2 separate regions of the Homo sapiens genome follow, and region 2 is linked to region 1. A link means that fine-mapping ties the variant in region 1 to the plasma level of a protein whose gene starts in the linked region. Region 1 holds a variant in brackets. A gene starts in the other region. All regions are shown on their forward strands. Region 1 has its middle 110 kb from the start of FAM171A1. Region 2 holds the start of SIGLEC8 (sialic acid binding Ig like lectin 8).

The links. PIP is the posterior inclusion probability: the model's chance that the variant is causal. The UK Biobank Pharma Proteomics Project read protein levels with antibody pairs (Olink). The fine-mapping took linkage between variants from a reference panel, not from the people measured, so its PIPs are less certain.
Region 2: SIGLEC8 starts here. The variant in region 1 is fine-mapped to the plasma level of the SIGLEC8 protein (UK Biobank, PIP 0.98).

What each region holds. Positions count from the first base shown.
Region 1 is chr10:15,480,151-15,483,061 of GRCh38, forward strand. No RefSeq gene overlaps it. Among named protein-coding and RNA genes, the nearest start is that of FAM171A1, 110 kb to the left of the region's middle. The variant A/G (reference allele first, on the strand shown) is at 1,210.
Region 2 is chr19:51,456,858-51,459,768 of GRCh38, forward strand. SIGLEC8 (sialic acid binding Ig like lectin 8) reads right to left here and starts at 1,597. Exons shown (of 7, transcript NM_014442.3): 1 at 1,077-1,597; 2 at 604-882; 3 at 327-374. The coding sequence starts at 1,530.

The sequences.
Region 1 (2,911 bases):
TCTCTGACATGCCAGGTTTTAGATAAATCCCTCAGAAAAGGAATGCGGGAGAGATGTCCTTCCTTCCCTGCTCCACACACATATGAAAAAAGCCATTCACTCTTTGAACGGGTATTCCCCTATCTCTTCTATTTGGGCCACAGGGCTTCTATCCAAGATGAATTTCACTGGTCGTCCAGTAACTCTTCTTATCTGTCTACTGACTAGGGACATCCAGCAGCCATCTCCTTGATGCTGTTAATCCCAGTATGCAGGTTACCTCCCTGCAAATGTCCCTGTAAACAATGACTAAGTCAACTTTAAAATCTTATATCCAGAAGACTTTTTCTTTCTTTTTTTTTTTTGAGATGGAGTCTCGCTGTGCTGCCCAGGCTGGAGTGCAGTGGCGCGATCTCGGCTCACTGCAAGCTCCGCCTCCCGGGTTCACGCCATTCTCCTGCCTCAGCCTCCTGAGTAGCTGGGACTACAGGCACCCACCACCATGCCCGGCTAATTTTTTGTATTTTTAGTAGAGACGGGGTTTCACCGCGGTAGCCAGGATGGTCTCTATCTCCTGACCTCGTGATCCGCTGCCCGCCTCAGCCTCCCAAAGTGCTGGGATTACAGGCGTGAGTCACCACGCCCGGCCCAGAAGACTTTTCCAAGAATGTCTTTTTCAATACTTTTTCAAGAAGGGGAGAATTAAAAGTAATGGCAAACACCGCAATAACTTTTGCACCAACCTAAATACTGCAATTAGTTTATACTTACCTAAATACTAACGTAGATACTTACTTAAATACAACTATACTTACCTTACTACTGTAGTAAATAGTTACTATACTTTTACCTAAATGCATTCCACAGTCACTTTACTATGAATCTTCCTAGGCTCTGCATGTATTTAGGTTCGTTCAAAAGTAATTGTGCGTTACTTCTGCACCAAACTAAATACATTCAGAGACAATGAAGATTCTCATTCCTTGGTAGCTGTTTCTCTTTCATTTTGACTCCTCCTCTCCTGGCTCTGCTGACCCCAGAACCCAGGGACCATGTCTGTCTTGCACATCACCACATGCCCAAGGGCAAGTCTACTTGCTGAATAAATGAATCAACGTCTTCAGGCTCAGTCTTTTTTTTTTTTCTATTTCATTTTCTTACATTTCTATGTGTCTCTCTCAGTTGATGAATAGTTTATTAGTCCTAACTATTGCATTTGTAATCATGACT[A/G]TATTACATTTTGGTATATTTTCAATGCTGGCATCTATATGTAAATCTAAAACTAAATGGAATTTAAAGTCTCTACCCAAACAAGGCAAACATATTGCAGCTATCATCTAAATAGGTCATTGACAGATACTTTTGAAACAATTGGTGAGACTTGGAAATGGAGTAGCTATCAGAAAATTATCGATAATTTTCTTAGTAGTAATAACTGTGATTATGTAGAGAATGTCTTTATTTTAAGGAGATGGATAATTATAATATTTAGAAGTGAGTGTCATGGTGTCTTTCAAGTGACTTGCAATACCTATTTATTATCTGTCTACCCATTATCTAGATAAAACAAATACAGTCGGGCACAGTGGCTCACGCCTATAATCCCGGCACTTTGGGAGGCTGAGACAAGTGTATTGCTTGAGCCCAGGAGTTCGAGACCAGACCGGGCAACATAGCAAAATTTCGTCTCTACAAAAAATACAAAAATTAGCCAGGCATGGGGCATGCACCTGGAGTCCCAACTACTCGGGGAGGCTGAGATAGGAATATCACTTGAGTCCAGGAGGTCAAGTTTGCAGAGTGAGATTCTGTCTCAAAAAACAAAACAGAACACTCCAATATGGTGGAGTGTTAAAAATTTTGGTTCTTGATGATGGGTCTATGTGTTATTATCATTTTATTCTTCTATATGCTTGAGAATCTCCATAAAAACATTTTAAAAAGTGATATAGCAGATGTTTCTGATCTTGGGGACAAGTATGAACTGATCTTGCTCAGGGTTGCCTCCCACCTGAATCACATTTGAACCATGAGTGTTGCAGAGTAATCTTTCCTTCAAGAAAAAAGTCTCCCATCTTCCCTGGCAGCCTATTCTGAATTTTCATCATCTTTACAGTCAAGAAGTTCTTTCTTCTGCCTATTTCAAATGGTAAAGGAACTCGTTTAGCTCTCAGCTATTTTGGTCTCTTCTGATTTCATAACAGGGTGGTTTGCAGAGTGTGTTAGATTTCGACTTTTCTTCAGGATTCATGTTCCCATGGGCATTCTGGAATGGCTGGTAGGAGAGATTTCTCTCCAGTGTGGTCTGATATTTATCTGGAAACTCTGCAGGGAAACAGCACAAGGTACTCTGATGCTGAGCCACACAGCCTGATGCCTGTCCCCCAACTTTTGTTTTTGTTTTTGTTTTTTGGGGGGGTTTTTTTCAGAGATGGAGTTTCGCTCTGTCGCCCAGGCTGGAGTGCAGTGATACGATCTCGGCTCACTGCAACTTCCACCTCACGGGTTCAAGCAATTTTCCTGCCTCAGCCTCCTGAGTACCTGGGATTACAGGCGCCCACCACCACACCCAGCTAATTTTTTGTATTTTTAGTGGAGGTGGGGTTTCGCCGTGTTGGCCAGGGTGGCCAGGCTGGTCTCGAACTCCTGAACTCAGGTGATCTACCCGCCTCAGCCTCCCGAAGTGCTGGGATTACAGGCATGAGCCACCGTGCCCGACCTATTGGCCTATTTTTCTTTCTATTTTTCACACATTTCTTATTTACTTATTGTCTACCTCTTCCACTAGAATGTACACTGTGAGGGTGTGGCCTTGGTCTGTGTCAATTTGGACTCAGTGGTTGGAGTTTACAGAATGTTTCTTTTTTGGCTTCGATGTCTTCCCGGGATGCTTATCCTTCATTAAGGATATTTCCTTCTAGTCAGTTCCGTT
Region 2 (2,911 bases), not on the chromosome of region 1:
TGACAAGAAACTTGAAAGTCTGGTCCCAAAATAAAAACGAACAAAAACCAAAAAAATTGGGAGTCTGATCCAGCTGTGTGAATGTCACCCTGTCCTTGCTGTGGGGCCAAGGAAGGGGTGTGTGGAGGAGTCTAAGGGGAGCAGGGACAGGATGGGGACAGGGGCTCAGATGGTCACGCGGGCTGGAGATGTGGGCTCTTGTGCCCTGGGCTCACGCACAGTGGCAGCTCTGTTTCCCAAAGTGATTCCAGGATGAGGAGAGACCCAGCCCCATCCTGAGCTGAAGGCCCTGCTCCCCCAACCCCAGGGAGGGGGCTCTGTCCTACCTGTGGCATCTCCTTGGAAGACAGTCATGGTCAAGTTCCAAGGAGGGTCTGGGACAGAAAGACATGAAGACCCACATTACTATAAGGACTGGGGACATTGGCCCTGTCTTCCCAGGAGCTGCAAATACAGGGAAAATGGAGTCGGCATTCTCCTGACCCCACTCCCAGCCCAGATTCTGGGACCCAGAACCCAGTGTCCAGGCTTGAACCCCATCCCCTGCCCTCAGGAACACCTCCCAACCCATGAGGGACCTGGGCATCTTGGTCCAGCACTCACAGGACACATCGAGGCGGACGGTACTGGTCGTGGTCACACCTGTCCCAGGCAAGGTCACCTGACAGGTGAGGCTGGTGCCGTGGTCCTGGGGCTTTGGGGTAAGGGTGAGCACTGAGGAGCGGGCAGTAGTGGGGCCCGGGGAGGACACGGAGGCCCCAATCCAGGAGATCATGGGGGGTGTCCCCTGCTTACAGGCCCAGGGCACAGAGCAGGTCAGGTTCCTGGAGTGGCCAGACTCTAGGGTCCCTAGGATGAGGATGTCAGGCCTATGGGTCAGGGCTGGTGAAGATGGGGACACAGGATCAGGAGGAGGTATTTCAGGTGCAGCCCTGGAGGAAGCTCAAGCTCTGGTCCAGCTCCTCCCCGGAGACCGACTTATTTCAATCCCAACCCCCTCCCAGGCCCCATCCCAGCCCTGCCTTTCAGCCCCTCATGACCTTCCCCTGTGGCCTGTGCTGGAGCCCGTGCCTTACCTGTCACAAACACAGACAGCTGCTTAGTTTTGTAATTCAACTGTGATTTGTAACTCCATTTCATGCTTCCTCTCTCTAGCCGAAAGAAATATGACCCCTTATCCCTCTTCCTGGCGTCTCTGATGCTCAGGGAGCAGTCGTTGCTCCAAATGTCCCCAAGGAGTTGGAATCGGCCCTGGGTCTCTGCCTGCACTTCTCTGTCTGGGTTGTTTGTGGCCACTGGAGCGTCTTGGTATGGTCTGTCTCCTGCCCGGAACCAGTAGCCATGAACTGGGTCAGAGTCAGTCCAGCCATCCTGGGGGTAGGAGAAGGAGCAGGGCACATGGACACACAGGCCCTCCTGCACCGTCACCAGCTCCTGCACTTGCAGCAAGTAACCATCCCCATATTGTCTGTCTCCCTCCATCCCCTTTGTCCCCCAGAGCAGGGGCAGCAGCAGCAGCAGCAGCAGCATGTCTGGGTTTGAAGGCGCCAGGGCCGCCAGGGAACGTCTGTTCCTCAGGGTTCTTCTCTCAGAAACTGAGGTCTCAAGACTTAGGGGAGGTCCCGCAGGAGGTTGGGGGTGAAGTCAGAAAAGTGACCTCCTCAGAGGAGGAACTTCACACACAGACACTGTCAGGGCCGGGTCAGTCCTGGGAGATCCACTGTCCACCACCCCATTTCCACTCCTGGGAACCCTGAGGCCAGAGAGGGTGAGAAACTCATCCAGATTCCCACCCTATGCAGGGCCCAACCTCTTTCTTGCTTCCCGGACTTGCCCTTCCATTTGGGTAACATTTTCTGCAAGGTGAAATTGGGTCCCATCTGGCCAGACCCCTGAATCACCCCCGGGGCTGTCACTGTTTGTGGAGGTCATACCAGCCAAAGGTGGAACTCAGGGCCATGAGAGACTGGGGTGCAGGTGAGGTGAGCAGGCAGCCTCTCCTCCCTCTCTCAGCAGCAACGAAGTGGGCACCTCCTCTTTACACAACGAGGTCAACAGAGCAGAGCCAGACACTGTCCTCAAGGAGTCACTGTGCAGAGGGGAGACACGGAGGCTCCTGACGTCTGAGCTCCCCAGGACGGGAGCTTCAGTGGGGGGCACAGGCAAGGTGGGGTCGTTCTCCCCTAGGTCAGGGGTTCAGTCTCAGGAGGCCTGAGCAGAGGGACACGGGGCTGTGGAGGTGAGGATTCTGCATGTTGATACACACGAAGGACGGGGGGCGGGGGGAAGCCTGGCTCGCAGGAGGCCTGGGAAACTGAGGCTGTAACTGTTGTACTGTGGGGTTTGGAAGGGAGAAATGTCAGAAGGGAAAGGGTCAATTTGAAAAGGGCACACACTTCTCCCTTTGTTGCAGCTATCTGGGTATCAGAATGGGTTTCTTCACCACCCGTATCTTACTCAGCCACACTTCCCCTGGTTACTGCACAGCAGGCGGGGTCTGTCAGCCCTGGGGCTTTGCTCCTGCAGGCTCTGCTTCCAGGGGTCCAGGTGAACAGGTGTCATGGAACGAGGACACCAGCCCTGGGGTGTGCACCTTCAGCGATGGGCAGGATTTCTTGAGAGAAGAAATGTGCACCTGAATTCAACAGATGATGATGATGATGATGATGATGATGATGATTATTATTATTATTATTATTATTATTATTTGAGACGGAGTCTCTCTCTGTCGCCAGGCTGGAGTGCAGTGGCGCGATCCCGGCTCACTGCAACCTCTGACTCCCTGGTTCAAGCGATTCTCCTGCCTCAGCCTCCCAAGTAGCTAGGATTACAGGCATACGCCACCACATCCAGCTAATTTTTGTATTTTTAGTAGAGCCGGGGTTTCACCATGTCGACCAGGATGGTCTGG